Linked DNA regions of Homo sapiens. The protein of the gene in region 4 purifies or fractionates together with the protein of the main gene of each other region. This does not show direct contact. Each region holds a gene or a part of one and is shown on either strand. Other genes may lie near its edges. The genes, in order: GFPT2, PLEKHA6, DPCD and MYBPHL.

Region 1 (5,964 bases), on a different chromosome or scaffold from region 4:
CTGAGCCGATTCCTGGCATGCTCCTTTGTGAAGGTGAAGCTTGAGCCCCGGGCCTTCAAGGCCTCTGCTGTACTGGATCCAAATCAATATTCACTTTGCTCCCTAGTTTCATGTTCATAATTTTGCTTTTTCTTAAAGGGGGGCCCACATTGTACAGGCTTCAAGCCCCACAAAACCTGGATCTGCCCTGTCTGTACGATTTTATTTATAACTGGAATTTGTTGCCCACCTCTAAAAATCTGTGGAGATTTCAAACACAAATCCAACTTTCTGGTTTCTTTTTTTTTTTTTTTAATTCAGAAGTGTAGCACCACCAGCCATGGAGATGGTGGGGCGCGGTCCCCGGGGCTGAGCCACAGTTGTTCTTTAGACACCACGAGCACCTTTCAGCGTGCCACAGGCCCTACCTCTCCCGTCTCCCTCCAGCTAAGTGATTTTATTTTCGTTCTTTCTTATGGGAAATGCCAGTGTGTTTTGCCTCACCGTGTGGCAACGGCTTCTCCTGGGTAGTGGACACTCTTGAAAACCAGCGCGAATGCACCTTCCTGAAAACACACAAACAGTGAGGGTCAACGCGTTCCAGCAGCCGCTGCTGCAGCCTGGCCACAGCCCAGGTGCGTCTCCCTGGGCCCCTCCTGATGGCGGGAGGTCCTGGGGTCCCTCGGGGAGCTGAGTGCAGAACAGCGCATCCGGGGTGACATCACGAGGGAAAGCAAAACAGACGGTGCCACGGGAAGTACCACAAACCAGAACATGTGAATTCCACGGTGAGCGATGTGCGGCTTGCCCAGGCCCACAGGGAGCCCGGCAGGGGTGCCAGCTGGGTAGACGGGGCAGTGAGAGTCACAGGAAATGATAGCTGGGACCAGGCTTCCCTGCCCTGCTCAGGGACAGCACCTACTCAGCAAGCCCCTGTGAAGTGCACTTTAGCTCAACACACGGTAGGGCCTGGGTTCAAATCCTGGCTCCACCCCTGCACTGGGCTCTCCCTTTAGCCTTCTTGGCGCCTCGTTCTCCTCATCGGTGAAGGAAGTGAGAACAGCGCCACCTGGCGGGGCTTCCGTGACGATGATAAGCTAATGCACTGAGCCTGGCATCCGGAGACCCAAGAGAAGCACAGGTTGTCATGACCGTTACTGCTATTATCCTTTCCATGGATACGACTGCCACCTGCCCTCTGGGCCTCAGCTGGTTGGTTTGTGCAAAGCCAGAACTAGAATCCAGCTCTCCTAACACAAGAGGCCAGATGGTTTTTTGACTTAAATTCTTGGTGTAAATTCTTCCCCCACGTCCTGACCATCCTGTACTAACTTACCGCAACCCTAGCAGAGCTCAGTTATATATAACCAGCTGCAAATCTGAATTTCCACAAGAAATCCTCCAAGTGTGGAAGCCACGGGCAGCCCCAGGCCCCGGGTGGTCAGCGTGTCGGGTCCAGGTTGCCAACTCAGCTACAGGGCCAGGAACCTGAGTCACCGTCCCCAGGCCTCATTGGGGCTTTCAAACTGCCCCAAACCAGGGGGCTTCAGGCAGACCCTGGTGCTTTTGTCAACAATAAAATAGGACTGAATGGAAAAACACTGCACGTTCTCTGCCAAAAAGAGCCCGGTACTGTCCCAGGTAGGAAAAGTCTTAAGTTTAAAAGTGTCATTATGAGAGAGGTATTTCTGAAATTTCAAAATAAAAATGGAAAAGAAGAAACAGCATGCTGTAATACCTAATTGGCTCACTGTACCTTATCCAGCACATTAAATGTGGGATAGGCTGTTTTTTATAAACACGTCCTCTAAATGATGGACCTCCAAAAACGGGAGTTAGAGGACAAAAAGGCTTCAACAGTAGACTTACTTTTTAAATCAGACTCTGAAAACACCTGCTCAAGAATGATGTATTTTACACTACAGGATGGTGCCTGCCAGATGTTCTGGACTCTGGGCCAGTGTCCAGGCTGCCACAGCCCTGGGGGAGCTACTGGGTGGCACTGCTGTCTGACAGGATGGGCTCTGAGAGGCCCGGACCCCTCTCGTCCTCCCGCACCCTGCATGGGCCTGTGTCTGCTCCACCTCCTCCTCAGTGTAGGGGCCTCCCCTTGGACAATACGCCCAGTGTGTGCTCCCTTCTCAGGGACTTCTTCTCCCTGGGCCCTGTCCTCTGGGATGTCCCCAATCTCTCTCCCTCTCTCCCTCTTTTGGGCCATTCCGTTCCACATACAGACATGCTGTGATATCACCTATCACAAAAACAGGCCAGGCACAGTGGCTCACGCCTGTAAATCCCAGCATTTTGGGAGGCCAAGGCAGGTGGATCACTTAAAGTCAGGAGTTCGAGACCAGCCTGGTCAACATAGTGAAACCCTGTCTCTACTAAAAGTACAAAAATTAGCCAGGTGTGGTGGTGCGTGCCTGTAGTCTCAGCTAACTCAGGAGGCTGAGGCAGGAGGACTGCCTGAACCTGGGAGGTGGAGGTTGCAGTGAGCCAAGATCACACCACTGCACTCCAGCCTGTGCAACAGAGTGAGACTCTGTCTCAAAAAAGAAAAACCTAGAAACACATCCTCGCTTGGTACCACAACTCTCTCTGCACACCACCACCAAGCTCACGTGTGCATCATAAAAAGCCACGGACTCTAATGCCAGTCACAATTTCAGAAGTGTCACGATGAAGCAGGGCACTTTCTATTTGATGTTGACTACCCAAACCACAGAACGTCTTCCAGTTCTACAAGAGTGTAACATCTTAAGGCCAGGCTCTGCAGATGGGCTGTCTTTTATCCCCAGGACTCTGTGCAAGTTTGTCTAACAAGGGCTTATAAAAAATGAAGGATTCCTTGGCACTTGCTGCTTGAAAAAAATGTTTTTAATGAAAGAATGAAGGAATGAGTTAGACAGATGGGATTTGTAACTCACCAACTGCTGAATGACTCTCTCGACCAACGTTGAAAACGTAATGTCCTCAGTTTCTCTGTTGTCGAACACATATTTAATCAGCTTGGCGATGGTCTCTGTATCTGTTTCTGACTCAAACTCGTAGCCTTTGCTTTCCTGGAATATGCAGTCGGCACAGTGTGAGAGATTGGTCATTGCACAATGCCTGCCTGGCCAACTCCCTCTCCTCCCTGGTGATCTGCCCTTGGAGTGACTTAAGTCAAGAACAGGGAAAACCGGGAAGGGGGGAAAAATGTTTGCCAGCATCACAGCCAAATACCTCTGAGTCACTCCCGGAGGCCCTGAGATCATCCCACCTCAGAAGCTCACCCTTGCCACTAATCTGGACATTGCAAAATAACAGCAGTCAAAATGATAAAATACGTTGAGTCAAACCCACCCACATCCCAACTAACACCACAGAGCCTTTCAAACTTCAGACAGTCACTGTCTGACTTTCCGTCCCAACTCCGCCGGTATACGAGTCGCTGTGTTATATAATGCAGACAGTTTAATAAAACGAAGCTCCTGTTATTTTGATTCTGGGAATCTGCAGTGGCCCTTGAGATAAACACTAATGCCCTGTTATCTCCTCAAACGAGATCTGCAGGGCCTGGCTCAGCCAAGGCAGAGGTTTCTTCTCAACACGGTGACGTGGCTGAGTGTGGGTCTCACTCAGTTCCCACACTGGTTTCCGCAAGGAAATGAGCTGGCTGGAAAGTTTCTGGGGAGACCAATCCCACCGGACTGAGACATCACCTAGGGGAAGCATCTTACCAGAAATTTCCTCAGATCTTTGTAATTTGTGATGATCCCATTGTGGATGACAACAAATTCTGAAAGAAAAGTTAAGAGAGAAATGCTATTGAGAAGGAGGTTCATGTCAGATGTGAAGAGAGATGATTTCAAGGCTTGAGAACTCTCTGCAAACTCCAGGCCTCAAGACTTCTGTTAAGCACACTTTGTTTACAGTGATTAGCACAGATGTTTACGGCAGCAACTACAGTGGAACCAGGGATTAGCACCAGGGATGTCTAGGGCAGCGGCTACTACAATGGGATCCGGAGGAAATACACATCCCTCTTTCAGTGACCAGCAGCCACCAGCCTGACCGTGCAGAGAGCTCTCCCCTGTGCGCTATTATAGTATCAAACAGGCTTTGGGGTTCATGTCCCACGGGGATGATGAGCCCTTCGTTCCAGAAGTGATTCCAGGCACTCTCAACTGGCTTTAGGCACAAAGAGGTCGCAAAGAACAGTCCAGCACCGTGCTGTGTTTGACCCACACTGTGTTGTAAAAATATTTGAGTTTTTAAAATTCTGAGTGTTCACTTTAAAATCCTGGTTTCCTTGGGGGAAAAATCCCAGAAGTTCTGGCATCCCCAGGCTCAGCCACATTCCTGCACAGCAGGATCTGCCAGCTGCAGCTTTTCCCACCTCCCCAGTTCCTGCCGCACAACCCAGCTCACGCGGGCGGCTTCCTGCACAGGTAGCACCCCGCTGATCCTGGCGGGGAGGTGGCGGGGGGGCGGGGGGAGCAGGGGGATGCGGGGGATGCGGTGAGGGATGTCTGCCTCCACCCCACTGCATTTTCTCAATGAATAGCCCGCATATGAGTGCCTTGAGGGAAAGATCCAAGGCCAGCCTGAGAATTTTTCTGGGCAAGTAGCTCCGTTTCCCTCTCCCCCTAGAGGACAGAAAGATTCCCTATTACCCTTGAGGTTCAATAATTCCACCAGGAGGTGTCTAGATGTGGGATACGCTTCATAAATATTGACTATTTTTTTCAAAGCATCACTGTGAAGTCTTATTTGTTTTTATTATTACCATTATTATTTTGAGACAGAATCTCACTCTGTTGCCCAGGCTGGAGTGCAGTGGCGTGACCTTGGCTCACCACGACTGCTGCCTCCCGGGTTCAAGCGATTCTCCTGCCTCAGCCTCCCAAGTAGCTGGAATTGCAGGTGCTCGCCACCACACCCGGCTAATTTTTGTATTTTTTTAGTAGAGACAGGGTTTCACCATGTTAGCCAGGCTGGTCTCGAACTCCTGACCTCAGGCGATCCACCCACCTTGGCCTCCCAAAGTGCTGGGATTATAGGCTTGAGCCACTGTGCCTGGTCTATTGACTATTTTTGATCCCTTCTTTGGATATCCAACTCAAGTTTTCCTTCAGTTCGGGAAAGATTTCTCCCACAGCATCTTTTGAAATCTTTTCCATTATTCTTTTTCTTTATTCTCACCATGATTTCCTCTATTTAAAAAAATTGTAGTGTTTGTTTTTGTGAGGTCACACCCAAAAATGGGAGGGCTTAAATAAGAAAAGCCCAGTTTCAACAGATGTGCTGACCACAGCTCAGCTTTATTTTTTATGTATTTATTTATTTATTTTTTACTGCTCTGTGCTCTGATCGCTTCTTGTGCACACCAGTTACCCATATGTTGGATCCATATTAACTGGCTCCACGTCCATCCCCTTCTCCATTTTTTTATATCTATGGTGATATTGTTTCTTTTTCTTTCTTTTTTTTTTTCTGAGATGGAGTCTCACTCTGTCGCCCAGGCTGGAGTGCAGTGGCGCGAGCTCGGCTCACTGCAAGCTCCGCCTCCCAGGTTCACGCCATTCTCCTGCCTCCGCCTCCCGAGTAGCTGGGACCACAGGCACCCGCCACCATGCCTGGCTAATTTTTTGTATTTTTAGTAGAGATGGGGTTTCACCGTGTTAGCCAGGATGGTCTCGATCTCCCGACCTCATGGTCCGCCCGCCTCGGCCTCCCAAAGTGCTGGGATTACAGGCGTGAGCCACCATGCCTGGCCGGTGATATTGTTTCTTTACATTATTCTCTTAATTCTGCTACACTTTCTTTCATCTCAGTCTATGATCCTATCATTAATTTGTTTTCTGGAATCCATGTTGTCTCTGCAGAATCTTTGTGTAATTTCCTTGTGTGGTATAGTTGCTGGGCGTTCAGACTTCCTTAAAAGCATGCTCTTCAGCTATCACTGCTGAGTGTCAAAGAAATTTTATAAATCTTTGCTTA
Region 2 (5,253 bases), about 95 Mb from region 4:
TGGCCCCCTGCCCCTGCACTCCCATGGGAATGCCGCAGGGAGCCAGGCTGGGGCCATGGGCTGCTGCCAGAGGACCGTGGATACCTCAGTGTCCACACACCCACCATGCCCAGCCCTGGAGCCATCACTACTCACACCGTGGTCCTGGGCCAGGGCCTGAGATGACAGTGGGGAGCACCATCCTCATTAATGTCCAAGTCACAGGGAGCCTCAGCCTTGCCCTGGCTGGGGTTGTGGTGACTCCAGTGGAACATTCCCTGATGGGGGACATGCCGTGGTGGAGAACACACCTGTGGCTATCTTATGTGAGGACTAGAGGTGAAGAGGAGATGGACACTGCCTCTGGAGCCAGCCTGACACCAAGGACAGCACTTGTCATCATCCCTATCCTCGTCAGCCCCACCCTACTGCCTCAGCTGGACCCAGGGCTTTGACACAAACCCAGTGCTTTGCTTATGGGTGCTCGCTGGGGTCCGGTGGAGACTGACCACCCTGCTTGAGCCAAAGACAAGGTGATGAGAGATGGGGAGAGGCCATTGGCTCCCAGAGGGAACAGTGCTGGCTGTGGCTAGAGAACAGCAGGTCTGTGCAGTGTCTGAGGGCAGGTTGGGAAGGGTAGCAGAGAGAGAGAGACAGAAAGAGAGAGAGAGAGAGAGAGAGAGAGAGATCCTCAGAGTGGAAGGAGGGGGAAGCAGCAGGACACATTGGCAAGTCAAGCAGGAAGGAGGGAGATGGAAAGGGGATATCAGATTGGTTTCCCCCGGTGGAGCCTTAGGTTAGTGCCCAGTGCAGTGCCAGACTGTCTCCTCTGCTCCTCCCACCTCATCCCTAGGAGGACCCACCAGTGGAGCACATGCAGCCTCAGTGGAGATGCTTGGTGTGGGGATCTGGGTGAAGGGGGTTGAGTAGCGACTGCCTGGGAGATGGCTGTTAGTAGGTCTGTGCCTGGTGTCTGCCTCGCCATCCTGGGGTAAGGGGCAGAGAGAAGGACTTGTCTTATGTAGGGTGTGGTCAGCCTTGGGGCCTTACCTACCCAGTTCCATGATATTTCTTGCCCTGTTCCCCCTGGAATGTGCAGTGGGCCAGCTGAGAGTACGCCTTGAGGAGGGGGGATGAGGCCTTAATCTGGGAGGCCTATCCCCCTATCCCAGGCATCCCAGACGAGGACTGGCTGAGGCTAGGCGCTCTCATGATCCACCTGCCCCGGGAGGGCAGCGGGGAAGACAGAGAAAAGCAAACGCATTCCTCCTCAGCTCCACCCACCTGGAGACGAATGTAGCCAGAGAGGAGGAAGGAGGGAAACTGAAGACACCGTGGCCCCTCGGCCTTCTCTCTGCTAGAGTTGCCGCTCAGAGGCTTCAGCCTGACTTCCAGCGGTCCCAAGAACACCTACTAATTCCTCTGCACTCCTTCATGGCTGGGACAGTTACTGGTTCATATGCAAGTAAAGATGACAATTTACTCAACAAATATTTATCGAGCACCTTTTATGTACCAGGCACTGTTGTAGGTGCTTAGGATATTCTCATGTTTCTGAGGGATTACAGCCTGGGAGGATTCCACCGATCTTCACTTCTAGCAGGTTTTTTAAACGTGACCCTTGGCTGTATTTCCCATCTTCACAGTTCAAGCACCCCAAACCTGCCCTTTCTCCCCTGCAGACTGGCAGGTGGGATTGGCTCCCAGGTCATTTCCTCTCTCTCTCTTTCTCCCAAGCCTTTCTCCCTCCACAGGAAACAGATTTTTCAGGGCCTTCCATGCCTGCCACTTTGTCCGTCTCTTTTTTTTTTTTTAAAGTAATATTTTTTAGAAATACATGTAAAATACCAAGAAATAATGTCTGCGCCTCTGCCACCTCTCTCTCATCTCTTATTTCATAAAGCTGGCTCTTTATGTTGCTTTACATGCCTTAATATATGTTTTATGGAGATTATACATATTATAGATCTATATATGTAATATATTTGTTTGGATGTCTGATCTTTTCCTACAGTTCCTGCCCAGGCCTGTTTTTCTCTCCCTTATTTTCCACATCATTCCTAGCATATCAAGACCATACCCCTTGCCTTTTTGATCCAAAGAAGGGGAGAGGAAAGACTTATTTTAAGACATCTATTTTATGCTTTTGTTTAAAAAAAGCAAATCTATTTTCAAATTGTGCAATGTCTGAATGGAATTGGCAAATGAGGTGAGGAGATGGGGTAACTGCCTTTAGGTCCCAACCCTGTGCCTGTCCCTCTGCCACAGTGGCTTCCTTCCATCCTATTCCCCAGTCACGAAAGGGCTGGTCCCCAGAGCTCACCCAGAAAGCATCTTGCCGGGGGCAGGGCATTCCCTCGGAAGTCCTGGCCTAAGGATTTTATTACACTGTCTGCTCCTGATGACCCTCTGCGGTTGTCAGGCGTGAATCCTCTGGAAGGAACTGTTTGCAGTTGTATGCACAAAGGAGACCCATGCAGGCATGCACCCCAGATGGGCTGCTAGACTACCCCTCTTCATCAGCCTGCTGGAAAGAGCAGACAGCGTAACAGCAGCCTATGCCAAACAGCACTAAGGATGTCAGTGTACGAGACGGTGCGAAGCCCAGAGGAGGCGGCTTGGGATCCTCTGGGCCATCCCTGGCCCTGTAGCACAGACACATACAAGTTCCTTGGACTTGTCACACTCCTTTTCACTTGATCCCTCTCTGGCCTGGGTCACATTTATGACATCCCCCCTCTGCAACCTTTCTCTCTGGGGGCTGTACCAAAGGCATGGTACCTCAGTCTGGTATCCAGACTGTGAAATCAGCCTCTGGGCCAAGGAGGGTCCTACAGACAAGGTGGCATCTCAACCTCACCCAAGAAACCCCCGGGACTTTACCCCAGCAGGCTGCCACTGGGGCACCGAACTAAGCCAGCTCAGCCTTCCAAGCTGCTTAGCCTTTGTCAACCATCAAAGTGGGGAAAGGGTCTCTGGCCTTGCAAGGATTTGGGCAGGATGGAAGTCTTTGTCTAGGTCTGAAATCAAGGGCTTGGGAATCTAGAGCAGAGCTCCTGGCCAGCGTTTGAAGCCTGGCCTCCCACCTGGGGCATTTACTGACACCCTGTCGCCAGCCTAGAACATCCTGCTCTGAATGAACAGAGCCCAGATGGGGGTCCAGAGCTAAGTGACCCACCTGGGGAAGCTCTGATTATTCATCCAGGGCCTTCTCAATGAGCACATTACCTCCATGATCAATAACCAAGAGGCTGCAGTCAAATACTGCTACTGTCACTTTGAAGATTTTCTAAGGGCACAAGTGGCACACTTGCTCTCCGGCCTTTGGGAGAGGCATGTTCTTGGGCAGGGCTGGCTACGGCAAGAGGGAACCAATTCCTTTCCCCTTTAGGCACCCTCTACCTGGCAGCTCTTAAAACTAAGAAAAAATATGATATACACACACATTATATATATATATATATATACACACACACACACACACACACGTATATCTATTTATGCACATATTGGGGCCAATTTGATTTGCTAGTATTAGACAATAAACTGTACAAGGAAATTTATTATCTCAGTGTCTTTATTTAGCATAAAAGTGGCCTTAGAAGAAGGGTGAAGGTTAGATAGATGGAATCTCTGTCAGGGGACAAACAGCTGTAGCATCCCCTTAGCATCTTTCTAGCCAATGAGCCCCCTCCCCAGGAGGAGGGATGGCCTGACTGAAACAGGTGAGAGTTTGCTTCCCCCTTTCAGCAGCATTCTTTTTAGATTTAGGTACTGAAGAATCCCAGTGAGTTCTGCATTTGTATCTTGCAAGTTTGTATAAACCCAATACAGGAAATAAAATGAATGGTTTGTATATGTGGTGTGTGTCTCCTACTCGGTGTCTGCCCTTGTGGTGCTTGTGGGGTTGTGGGGTTGGCAGCTTGTGGGGTTGGCAGGAAAGGGGAATGGGGGCTGGGAGGTAGGCTGGGTGTAAAACATGTGCTCCTTCCTCCCCTGTGCCTCAGCCTGCACTTTTTGGCCTCCATCCCCAGGAGCTGGGGAAGCGAGGGTATGCTACCAACACCAGCATCATCATTTCAGTTCAGGTGACCCCAGATCAGGGTTTGCCCCAAGGTTCTGTATAATGGCAGTATCAGATGCTTCAGGCCCTGGCACCTTCCCTTGGTTTGACTCATACAAAGGACAGGACAGCAGGAGAAGAGAATGAATTCCCAGCCTTTCTTGATTACTACACAATGCGCTATATTGCTGCTTTACAAGAAGTTGTATAATTTGGTGGGAGGTATGAGACCACCCCAGTTCTCATTCTGCCTCCATCCCTTTGGTTTATTTCTCTTGGCAGGTGTTTTGTGGTTATCAGGTATTGACACTCTGTGTGAAGGGCTTTACCAGTGCTTCTCAATTTGGAATCTTACTGTGGGGACCAAGAGTCAAGAAGCCTGGTAAATTTTGTGGGGTGGGTAGTGGAAGAGAAGAGGTGCGCCCGGGAGACTGGCAGGCTCAGCGGGGCTTCTGCATGTTGTCCGAGGGAGGGATGGCTCAAGAAAAAGCGAGAAGGAGAGATGAGAAAGCAAGCTTCCTCTAATTCCTGATCTTGCATCGGCTTGGCTTTCATGGCTGAAGCTGAATTCTGGACACCTGTTCCCATTTCTAAGGGCTAGTACGGGGGAGGTCATTTTTAAGATTCGACTCTATTTTGGATTTTGTCACATCCCCAGGATGATGTCCTTTGTGAACCCGGGAGAGTTGTGACCAGATGTAGGCTCTGGGGGAGGGCCTGCATCAGAGGCTGGGGTAGGGGGATGCATATTGGAGAACTCGTCACTTTCTGGGGGGCTGAGCCTTTATCTTCAGGCTCCATCTGAGCCAGAGCCAGTGGCAAGGGCTTGGGGAGGAGGTGGAATGTGAGACCACAGAGTACCACCGGGCATCACTGCATCCACCGACAAGGGCTGCCTCCTCCTCTCAAGAGATGATGCCAGCTGGTGCCTGCTCCATCCCCTACCAGATCAAGCCAGGTTGGGATTTGTAAAAAGGGGGTAGTAGCTGAGAAATGTAAATGAAAATGCAATAGCAGAATGTCCTTTAAGGAGCAGAGCTGTGTAACTGCATGATCACTTATTTATTCTTGAAGACAGGCACGACAGGGTCAGGCAGGCAGCCAAGCCTCAGACCCTGCTGCTGCCAGGGAACTGGGGCCACGCCACGTCCCCCTCCTCATCCCGAGCCTCACCTCGTTACTGAGACCAATGAGAGAAGGTGGCATGTCAT
Region 3 (4,885 bases), on a different chromosome or scaffold from region 4:
CTGTGGTGACCCCTACCCCAACACACACCCTTGGCAAAATTATGACCCTGATTCTGGCTTTTTACCCACAATGCCTTAACATCCTGTGTTCTACTTCCAAGGTTTCTGTTTTGTTTTTTGTTTTTGTTTTTTTGTTTTGTTTTGTTTTGAGACGGAGTCTTGCTCTGTTGCCCAAGCTAGAGTGCAGTGGCATGATCTTGGCTCACTGCAACCTCCGCCTCCCAGGTTGAAGCGATTCTCCTGCCTCAGCCTCCCGAGTAGCTGGAATTACAGGCATGCGCCACCATGGCCGGCTAATTTTTGTGTTTTTAGTAGAGACAGGGTTTCACCATGTTGGCCAGGCTGGTCTTGAACTATTGACCTCAGGTGAGCCGCCCGTCTCGTCCTCCCAAAGTGCTGGGATTAAGACGTGAGCCACTGCGCCTGGCCGGTTTCTGCATTTTTAAAACTTTTCCCTTGCCCACACATCTTCAGGAGTTTCCTCTGAGCCACTTCTGCAAGCTACGGTAGCACAGGGTCCCTCCAGCCTGGTCTTCCTCTGAGTTTGTGTAAACAGGTTGCAGGGAAAGGCCAGCCCTGCCCTGCTAGGGCCATGTGCTCCCACCCTATTCTCCCTTTTTGTGGAAAGCTTTATGTTGTAGGTCTCCGGGATAGAGAAAGGAATGTCATCACACCCTCCCGAGGGAGGCCAGTGGGGTCTGGGGCCAGGCAGCATACAGAGGGGAACAAGAGGGCAGTCCCTGTGCAGTAAGTAACTCAGAATGACTTTACTCAGGAAATATGACCATGACTCACTGGCTAGGAGTGCCCCATGCCCAGTTCTTAGAGACCCTTGATAGCTCCTAGAAGACAGGAGGCTGCCGTGGTCAAGAAGGGCCAAGCCTTGAAGTCTCACGGCACCCCCTGTGGTGGAGGTATAAGGCTCAGGGGCCAACTACTGGGTCTTGCAGTCCCCATCGTTGCTGTGGGCTGTCTTCACCTTCTTTAGTTCCTTCTGTAGCTCAGACTCGGCCACCACAACCTCCTTTGGCTTCTGGTACTGTGGATGCAGCCAGGAATAAGAAAATAATTCAGTCACTGTCCCATCTCCTTCCACACACACTTGGGGCCCCTTCTCCTTCTGATCCCCTTATTTGCACGAGAAAATTGAGGCCTGTAGGATTGAATGATTTGCTCAAGGTCATGTGCCTGAGTAGGAGCAGACCTTGGACCAGAAGAACCCAAGTTCAGCAATTTCCACCGCTTCCCTTTCACCCTCTACCCTCTTCTAGCTGTGAATTATATGGTCAGGCTCCTTCCTGAGCCCCCTCCCTGCTCTCCCCCATGCTGAATTAGAGATGCCTATTCTCCCACAAGCATACCCTAGGGCTTGGGGCTAGAACTGAGGACTCTTATGGGATGGGAAGTGGGCAGGGAAAGAGGAAGACTCTCCCTGATGCAGTGTCCAAGAAGTCTGGGTGAATCTTACAGAGATGATCAGGGTGCAGTTGGCGTGGGCAAAGCTCAGCAAGGCGTCATCCAGAGGTAGCTGGTGTCTATCTAGATCAGGAATGGAGAACTTCTTGTAGTACCTGTGGGGACACCGAGAGGCCATTGGGGCACTCGGCAAGGTGACCCAACAGCCAGGCGTCAGGCCCTCTGCTGCCTAGCTTCTACCTAGTTCTTCCACACCTTCCACACACGCAGAGAGGGAGAAGGGAAACCAGTTAGAACACCAGTATTTCAGAGCTCAGTGGCCCTGGAAAGCATAGAATGCAAGCCTTATGTCCAGTCCAGTGGCAGAAGAGCAGAACCTAGTTATAATTCTGTGATTAGACCAGGGGTTGTAGTGACTCACATCTCAGAGCTGGGTCTCCCAAAGACAGGCAGAAGAAGCCTGGAACACACAAATAGCTCAAGCAGCTTGGGACTCCTCTACCCCCAAAGCCTCATGGAGACACCAGAAAAATGGGACGTGTTCTAACAAAGGACAGAGTAAGGACATTCAGATCTGTCTCCCAAAGCTGGGGCCCTACTGTTACCATTTACATGGGAGGTCCACTGAAGGCCTCAACTACCTCTTCCTCTTTTGGGGCCTTTCAAGGCCTTGTTAGCCTGGCCTTGTAGGCCAGAGGGAAAAGTATATCTACTAGGAGAAATCTCTTTGAGAGGACGAACCATGTTACTCATCACGGAAGCTGGACCTCTGGACTACTTGGCTGGCCCCAAGTCCCTACTCCTCCATTTTTACATATCACACATGGTCCTTATCATCTGCAGGTGCCGGTTCAGCGATTAATGATGCCTTTTAATTAAAAAAAAAAATAGAACAGATGGCAACACCCAGTCTGTAATGTGTATAACTAGACTTTGCAGGAAATTTGACCCCCCTTACCTAAAAGGGAACTCGGGCTCAGAGAGATGAAATATCTTGCCTTGTTTCACGGCCAGTTGTCGGTAGGGATGGGAGTCAAGATTAGAGTAAGATTCCTTGTCCTTGGTCTGATCCTTACTACACCAAAGCACAATGAATGGCCTCCTCATCTCTAACAGTACACCAATTTGGCATTTTCCTTGGTGGAAATGTGGCTTAGGCTCTGGCCAGGGGCTGCTAGACCTGTCACTTGGGCAAGGCATCACTTTCTGCTGCAGAGGTTGTATGGGCTGTGAAGGGAAACACCTCAGGCAGGTACAAACAAACTCAAGTGAGAGGCCTGGGGAGGATGGGGCTTTTAGTACTTCAGAGGGGCCTGGTCCTTGTGGTGACAGCTACCCTGAGTCCACTTCAAAAGCCCCTATGCCCTGGGGACTCAGAGAGTTGACATCAATGCAGCACTTCTGCCCCCGTCCTCCCTGCCCAAATCCCTCCGTTCAACAGAGGCTCTCGGGGCCCCTCTCCTCCCAGGTTCCCCACTCCCCACCAAGGTACTGGGACCCATGGCAGGAAAAGAATGTTTACTTAAAGGCTGACAGTTCAAAAGGAGTGGGGGCTGGGGGATCCTAATGGCATTGCAAGTTGCTTTATTTTCCAAAGCTCTGCCCCAGGGAAAGGCGATCCATCTGCCTGCAAACCGGGGATGGAATGCCTGCCTCATCCTCTTCCTAGCCAGCTCAGGCTGAGGGCTCTTCCTGGGGCCTTTGGTCTGGCCAGCAAAGGTGGCAGACACTGATAATAGGGGAGAGTCAAAGGTTAAACAGCAGAGATTAGATGAACACAAAGACTTGTTAGGAAGTGTTAACATCTTCCCTGCAAATATACACAAAAAGCAGAACCAGGAGGGAAGCAGCCCAGCAGAACCATTCCCCCAGGCTGGGGCAGTGGGACCGGAAAATGAATCCCAGGGCTTGGCCACAACAGCAAGGACAGGATCAGAGGGAACTTTAGGTGCATAGCTTGCACCTGCTTTCCTTGAACTACTCCTACCACCAGGCAAGAGGAATGGAGGCAGAGCAGGTGGAGGCTCAGCTTGGTTTTGAGTCTCTTGTAATAGATTTAGTTTATTGGTCGAGGTTAACCAACTTCTTAGAAGCTCCCGATAGGCTCAAGGGAGTAGGGAGCATCTGCCTTTTCTCCTCCTGGGGAAGCCCACCCCCTTCTCACACCCATTCCCCCAGACATAGGGTTTTTCCATGATAGGTACTGTACTTGACTTTCTCACCAGCACCTGGACAAGAGAGAGACCCACTGTGCTTCTGGAAGGGTCATAACGTTCAGCCTCAGGCAGCTGTAGGTAGGCAGCAAACATTTATTGGGCATCAACTGTGTCCCAGACCTTGAGCTGTGAGCTGGGGATTTAAGGATGAAGAAGAGGGCGGGCCTGGTGACTCATGCCTGTAATCCCAGCACTTTGGGAGGCTGAGGTGGGAGGATCACTTGAGGCCAGGAGTTCAAGACCAGCCTGGGCAACATAGCGAGACCCTGTCTCTACAAAAAATTAAAAGAAAAGGATGAAGAAGAAACAAGGCCTCCAGATGCAGTGGCTCACTTCTGTAATCCCAGCATTTTGGGAGGCCGAGGTAGGCAGATCACTTGAGGCCAGGAGTTCAAGACCAGCCTGGCCAACATGGTGAAACCCTGTCTCTACTAAAAGCACAAAACTTAGCCAGGCGTGGTAGCAGCACCTGTAGTCCTAGCTACTTGGGAGGCTGAGGCAGGAGAGTCACTTGAACCCAGGGGGCGGAGGTTGCAGTGAGCCAAGATCGTGCCACTGCACTCCAGCCTGGGCAACAGAGCCAGACTCAATCTCAAAAAAAGGAACAAGGCCATATCCCTGCTGATCAGACCTTGTTTTGTTTCTGCTAAAAGATGAACCCTTACAGCAGGATAGTTCCCTGGCTTCCTGCAGATGCCCCGCTCTCCCCCATTCCCACCTCCCTTCAATGTTCTATTTCAGCCATACAATGAAAGATGACATTTTAAGAGCTTATTCTGTGCCAGGTTCTAAACACATTTAATTGTCAAAACAACTCTCTCAGGTTGGTTACTTCTATTATCCACTTTTAAACAAAAGGAAACTGAGGCCCAGAAAAGTTAGATATCTTGCCCAACTCACAAAGCTGGTAAACAGAGAAGCCCGTATTAAAGTGAGAATTCCCCAAATCTCCTGACACCTCCATGTCTCCACATTCTCACCACAAAGTAATAGCCCGCCATAGTCTAGATTATTTGCATTTGTCCAATGATGGGGCAGATATTGAGGTGGGAGGTGGGGATGTTCAACAATGAACAGGTTGTCTCCCCTGGGGTCCGAACACTCTGCGGGTCCCCTGGGTACTCTCTCCAACACATCAGTGGCCTTCCTTTCTGAATGTCAAAAGTCTTCAAAAGATGTATGTGGAAGTAAAGGCTTGTAGCAGAACTCCTGGCCCTGCCTTGTGACCCCGGACAGGTCACTTAATTTCTGGG
Region 4 (6,659 bases):
GAGCCATAAATTACCTAATTTTCTTGTTCTTCATTTTCTTGCTCTTAGTGCTCATACAGATCTTCCTCCCGTGGGTGTGTATACGACCAGCTTTCTTGTTCTTCCTCCTAGAAAGTCTAGGCACCCACCCCACATACCTTCACAGGTTTCAGTTGCTACACTCTTCCTTCTGGACACAGCAACAGATAATTACTCCTTGAATTCTGTGTTCTTTTGAGCAGGTTTGACCCCTGGCGGCACTGAGAAGTTCAGCTTTGTAACTTCCCATCTGCTCCTCTTACATTTCTCTTGCTGTTCTTACGGGCCCTTTCTTGTCCCTTTCATTTAAGGACCTTTGGAGAGTTGCAGCCTTCCTCTCTTGCAAAGCATTTAAGAGAGGTTCCTGCCCACCCGTCTGGAACCGTTAGCCATCCTACCCTGCTAGCCTGGGGCAATATTCCATGTAATACTCCAGCACCTTGGTCTGAAGATGACAGGGCAAAGCCCTTGTTCCTGAGGCCCATCTGATGGGCGAGTTCCTACCCCAGGACATTATCTAAGATCGTTGTTTTATTTGAAGGAATTCTATCTAACATGGTATTCCAAGATTTCCTGCGCCAGAGTCACTAGGTTGGTTTTTTTAGGTGCAGATTTCTGGATAGCACCCCAGACCTATTGAATTAGACTTTCTGATGGGCAAACCTTAGGAACCTGCATCTTAAAGTTGATTCTTTACACCTTCGCTCCAACAAAGGGCTAAGACTCAGCCTGGGCCAATTTCCTCACCAAAAGATGGGTTACGTGTTGTGTAAAAGGGGGTGTATTTGGGGTCTCCTGGCTAGGAGACTGTCCACACTTACGGGGCCTTGGCTGGGTCAAGCAGGAAAAATAGTTCAGAAAGACCTTCAAGCTAGTTCTGATATGGCAAAAACCCAGTCTTCTGCCAACCAAATCAACCCCATAGGCCATCCAAGGCCCCAATAAACAGATTGTCCTGGGCCTTAGCTCCTATACCAGTTACAAAGAGGCTGAGCTTCTGTCACCCCAAGATAACACAGGCTCCTGGGATCTTACCAATTACCCCAAAATTGAAGGCAAAAATGAGTAAGAAGTCAGTCCATTTGTTCAACTGCACCCATTTTTTTTCCATGAAAAAAATACAGGGGTGAGTAGGGGGCTGTGGGAACCCTATACTTTCCACTCAGCTTTGCCGTGACTCTCAAACTGCTCTAAAATTAAAGCATTTTAAAATGCAGAGGGATGCTGGCTTCTGGAGATAAGAAGGTAGGAGTATGATAGGTGGCAGTGTCCATGGCATGTACAACACGTATAGAAAGATGGTTTGCTAAGTCTGGAAATCATGTAGGACCTGTAGTATGTGACTAGCACCTGCTGTGAGCTGGCCACTTTCCTATAGATTGTATCATTTTATCCTCAACACAATCATGGCATCATCCCTTGTTTCATAGACTGGGACTTGAGACTCCGAGTCGGCCATTTGCCCAGAGTCCCAGCTGGTGAGTGAGTGGTACAGCCAGAAGTCACACGCAGGTCTCTGAGCTCGCCTCCCTCCACCACTGCTGCCTCTCCCTTTATTTGTACTTCATCTAATAGGCAAGGCAGCCATTGACAGCTCTCAAAGGGGGAAGTGCTGGCCTGACCTAAAAATAGCTTACATTTATCAAGCACTTAGTCGGCTACACTCTGCTAAGCACTTTACAGAGATTACCTCTTTAATCCTCACAACGACCCTATGGTTATAATTATCTCCATTTTACAGATGAGGAAACAGACTGAAGAGAGACTGTGAGGTGTTGTGAGTCACACAGCTAGTTGGTGACAGAGCCCCAAGTGGCACCTGGGCAGCCAGTGCGAGTGCAGTCTCCACCTACCACTGCGCTGTGCCCGCTGCCCCCGGGGAGCGGGGGAGGATGGGACAGGCCCTGTAAAGGTCGAGTTGATAAGACTTTACAATTCATTGAATGTGGGAGCAGAGGGAGAAAGAGCAGTTCAGGCGTTGCTGTGAGTCAGCTAATCCTGGGCCCCTTCTTTGGGACCTGAATGCCCCACGGGATGAACTGGAGGTCAGGAGCAGAGATGTCACTCAACCCTCCCTACAGAAATTAGAGGTCCCTTTTGGATGGTGTGTTCAAGCTCTCCCTCCCTGGTGCTGTGGGGGGTGTCATCTCTCTCCCGAGATAACAGGGACACCTCAGTCCTCCTGGGGCTATTCTGGGCTGCTGTCTGATCCTCCTCTCTCCCCCAACCCCTACTTCAGCCTTTCTGCTGGGCGTAGCTGAGTGGGGAGGGCCAGCCCAGTTACGTAACCCTGTGGCTGGGACCCGGGAGGCCAGCCTGGGAGCAGGTGCTCAGCCCCTCCCTCATCACCAGCAGTGAAAATCTAGAGCTGGAGCTCAGCCTCTGGGAAGGCCCAGCATGGAGGCAGCCACAGCTCCGGAGGTGGCCGCAGGATCCAAGCTGAAGGTGAAAGAAGCCAGCCCAGCGGATGCTGAACCACCCCAGGCTTCACCTGGACAGGGGGCTGGCAGCCCCACTCCCCAGCTCCTGCCCCCTATAGAAGGTGACCCATGGCAGGTGGGGAGGGTGGGGAGGCCGGGTGGTGGGAGTTGGGGAAGACATCGCCACCTTCCTGAACGGCGCCTCAGGTTTTCTGCAGAGCTAAAGACTCTATAGGATTGGTGATTAGGCTGGAGATCATTCGTGAGAGCCCCCATCCCCTGTCCTTGATGGAGTCTAACTTGCTGCTCAAATGTCCCTGCTAAGTTTTTGTGTTTTAGCTGAGAAGTCAGTGATGGTGTTGGTGGCACTTTACAGTGACTAAAAATGATCTGTTTATATTTTTACCTTTTAAAAAATTGTCATAGGGACTGGGAAGACCTGATATACTAATGGCCAGTCAGGAAGGGACTGAGGGGTAAGAGATAGTGACTGTCTGCTGAAGGAACAGGGAAATAAAATGCTATGGCAATGGGGAGGCTAAGAGTGGGGCAGCACAGTGACACTCGGCCTCCTGCTGGGCAGTACCACGGGGTCAGGACCTCCTCCAATCCCCCACTGCTCCCATAGGAGATCCTGACCCCTCAGAGTCTGAGCTCCACGGAAGTGGAGCTCTCCTGGGAGAAGCATTCAATTTCCCCTTCACGATGGTCTCTGTGTGCCTCTCAGCAAAGAGGCGTTCCCAAGTGAGGAATTCCAACCCCGAGCTTCCTGCCGCCCATCCCTGAATGCCCTGGCTGAGGCCTCTGTAGCTAACCACTTCGTGGCGCTCACCTGAAAGTCTTAAGAGGATGAAAAGACCACAATCAAGAAACACGTGGACTCCTAGGGCAGGAAGAGGCAGGGGAAAAGATATACTAGACTTGGAGGCAAAGCTCTAGGCTCAATTCCTAGTGCCGCCTCTAACAGCCCTGTGACCTTGGACAAGTCACTGGACTGCTCAGTTTCCATTTTCACTCTGTAAAATGGTGATTAATAACATCTACCTATCAGGGTAGTTGAAAGGATTGCTGAGATGATCCAGGGTGCCTTGGAAGAGGCCAAACTAAGATGTAAATAAATGATCAAATATTTCCAAGTGAGAGGTGAAGGCTGCGTTCTACCTCCATAGGGTTGTGCAGCAGACTCTGTCTGCCTCTTATCCTCATGGGAGAGGCCAGGTTTCCAGAAACTATTTGAATGTCAAGGGCAGAGAGCTGGCCAAGTTTGTCCCGTTGAAGATGAAGGGAGCAAAAGTTAGTGTAAATATATTAAGCTGGGGTGATGGAGGCAGAAAACCAGTTTCTTCCCTTAAAAGGCCCAGAGAATAAGTGACAGGCAGCAGGAGAATGAGAGCCAGGACTGCTGACGCCTCAGCTCTCTCTACTGGTCTTCCCAAAAGCACAAGGGAGAGTGCTCATCTCCCCCATGCTTCTCCCCTCTGGCTGCAGCCAGCTCCTGACAGCCCCCAGTCACGGGCCCGCAAATGCAGCCCAAAGCCTCTCGTGTGCAGCAGCTCTGTACACTGCAGGCCTCAGGGCCACTAGCACCCAGTGGCTCAACCCAGTGGTATCCCAGAAGTCACTGGCAATAAGAACACCTTTGAATACTTTGCAAAATATATGTGCATCTGTTAACTACTTGGAACAAAGAAGTCATGAGTTCAAATCTTAGCTCTGTTCTGTGGCCCTAGGCAAGTCAATCCACTCCCATTTTCTCATCTGTAAATTGAGGAGTTGAACCAAATCAGGGTCTTAACCTTTTGGTGGATATGGACCCCTAGGAAAATCTAATGCCAGCTGTGGACTCTTGCCCCTGGAAAAATACACAAAAAAGTTCAGAGAGCCAACAGAGCCCCAAACCCCCACCAAAGATCCTTCAGGGTGCAATGCATGGGCCTGGACTAGATGACCCCTAAGCCCCCTGAGAGCTCCAAAGCCTTTCTTCCTCCTAACTCCTCTTCCTTACAGAGAGCTCTGGGACTGAGTATCACAGGAAGCATGTGAAAACATGGGAACTAGAGCAGGCATCAGAAATAGAAATTAATTTGCAAGATCAAAACCAACTGCAAATGGCCAACAATGAGCTTTTAGTTTGGCAAGCCTGCTACATGGCTAAATAAGCAGGAGTAGGTGGCCAGCATTGGTAAACAGTTCTATGTCTGTCCTCAGCACTACACTGAGTACTGTGTCCTGGAGACAAAGCTTGGCAGGGGCCAGAGAAGAGCTTCCAAAACAGGGAGAGGCTGGGGAACAAGCTGCATCCCTCCCATGGACAATGTGACACTCGGCCTCCTGCTGGGCAGTACCACGGGGTCAGGACCTCCTCCAATCCCCCACTGCTCCCATAGGAGATCCTGACCCCTCAGAGTCTGAGCTCCACGGAAGTGGAGCTCTCCTGGAAGAAGCATTCAATTTCCCCTTCACGATGGTCTCTGTGTGCCTCTCAGCAAAGAGGCGTTCCCTGGGACCCTGAGGTGGAGGAGAAAGAGCCCATCTGCTGACTTCAGCATCATCGCTCCAACTGACTCTGTGTTCTCTTTCAATCTGAACTGTTCTGTGTCTTCCAGGCATGGGAAACTGAATCTCATGCCTAGGAGTGACCTTTCTTCCCTCCTTCCTTCCGTCCTTCCTTTCCTCCTCCTTCCTTCCACAAATATTTAGGTTGTGCCTATGATGTGCCAGGCGCTCTTCTAGGTGCCAGAATTACAGAAATGAACAAAATAGGTAAAAATAACTGCCCTCATGGAAGTTAGATTCTAGTGGAGGGAGCTAGACAATAAATAAACAAGTAAAGTATCTAATATGTCAGATGGTGAGAAATGCTGTGCCAAAACTAATGCAGGGACGGGGATAGAACGTGCTTCGGGTAGGAAGCATGCAGGCTTCCTGCTTCAAATGGAATATTCAGTGAGGGTCTCACTAATAAGGTGACATTTGAGCAGCAACTTAAAGGATGTGAGAAAGCAATGCATGCAGATATTTGGGGGAATATTTTCCACACAGAGAGAACAACTGCAAGGACCCTGAGGCAGGAGTGTGCTTTATGGGTTGGGGCCATTGTGGCTGTAGCACAGGGAGGGAGACAGTGGCAGTATTTCAGTCTGAGAGGTAGCACGGCCGCTGTGAAGACTTTGGTTTGTCTACGAGACAGCCAGCCAGCCAGTGCAGGGACTGGGAGTAAGGACTGACAGGACCAAGTGTAGATTTTAAGGATTTTTCCAGCTGGCCATGTTAAGAATAGACTGTAGGTGGGCCTTAGACACTAGCAAGATCGACAACTGGGAATGAGAATGAGGGAGAAGGTAGGGAGGTTTTAGAAGAGAAAGGTGTGCGATAGTCACCCAGGACAATGGGAGACCGAGTGAACTTGGGAAGTCTAGTAGAATTGCCAGAGTTCACTTGGAGGTGGTGGTCACTATTAATGGCCCTCAAGTTAAACTCCATATAATTTTGTATTTTCCCCCAGTCCTGTTACTCTGTGCAGATACAGCCACTGAGTGGGTGGGAAGTTTATTTAACAAGGGTTAGGTATTGCCAAGAGAGTGCAATGAAGTCAAAGAGGACTCAGGGATTTGAGTGAGTGCAAGAGAGAGAGTATAATAATGACCGTGCAATCTAAGTTGGGTGGTGAAGAAAGTGCTAACATGAAAGGGGTGCTAGGTAGTGAGAGGGTGGTAGGACAATGGATCACAGATCTCAGTGGTGCCAAAGAATTGCTGGTGTTGGAGCACTGGAGGAAGTGAGCTAAAGGGATAAAGATTATATTAGTTAGGTATACTAGTGAATGAAACAGGTCTCAGGAATGACATACATCTATTTCTCACTAGCGTAAGAACTAAAAACTATTCTGCAGATAGTTCTCCTCCATGTGGTAATCCAAGGACCCAGGCCTCTTTCATCTTGGGGCTCTGCCATTCCTTAGGGCCCGTGATCATCTGTGTACAGCTAGCAGAAGAGGAAAATAGAAATCTAACTTCTTCAAAGCCTGGGACCAGATGTGATTCTCACCATTGCCACTTACGTCTCATTGGCAAAAACTGGTCGCGTAGCCATCCAGCAAAAGGTGGCCGGGCAGCCACTTCTCAGAGATAGCTACGCTACGGAAGGGGTAACATACATTTTTTTTGGCCAGTTAGCCATCTCTGTTATAGAGGTGGTGATGAGACAGTGGGATGCTTGTAA

Evidence for each region.
Region 1: the proteins of MYBPHL (region 4) and GFPT2 purify together in Homo sapiens (affinity purification with mass spectrometry, with the first as the bait; one large-scale study listed by BioGRID). This does not show direct contact.
Region 2: the proteins of MYBPHL (region 4) and PLEKHA6 purify together in Homo sapiens (affinity purification with mass spectrometry; 2 studies listed by BioGRID and IntAct, with this or other methods). This does not show direct contact.
Region 3: the proteins of MYBPHL (region 4) and DPCD purify together in Homo sapiens (affinity purification with mass spectrometry; one large-scale study listed by BioGRID and IntAct). This does not show direct contact.

The regions. Positions count from the first base shown.
Region 1 is NC_000005.10:180,327,794-180,333,757, forward strand, and holds part of GFPT2 (glutamine--fructose-6-phosphate aminotransferase [isomerizing] 2), read right to left. Parts: intron 3,761-5,964; coding exon 3,702-3,760; intron 3,042-3,701; coding exon 2,907-3,041; intron 546-2,906; coding exon 484-545; intron 1-483. UniProt on the Homo sapiens protein: Controls the flux of glucose into the hexosamine pathway. Most likely involved in regulating the availability of precursors for N- and O-linked glycosylation of proteins.
Region 2 is NC_000001.11:204,217,435-204,222,687, reverse strand, and holds the end of PLEKHA6 (pleckstrin homology domain-containing family A member 6), read left to right. Parts: 3' UTR 1-3,835; downstream 3,836-5,253.
Region 3 is NC_000010.11:101,605,521-101,610,405, reverse strand, and holds the end of DPCD (protein DPCD), read right to left. Parts: intron 1,572-4,885; coding exon 1,469-1,571; intron 1,040-1,468; coding exon 935-1,039; 3' UTR 744-934; downstream 1-743. UniProt on the Homo sapiens protein: May play a role in the formation or function of ciliated cells.
Region 4 is NC_000001.11:109,302,748-109,309,406, reverse strand, and holds the start of MYBPHL (myosin-binding protein H-like), read left to right. Parts: upstream 1-2,395; 5' UTR 2,396-2,415; coding exon 2,416-2,560; intron 2,561-6,659. UniProt on the Homo sapiens protein: Myosin-binding protein which plays a role in cardiac function. Seems to regulate conduction in the atria and ventricular conduction systems.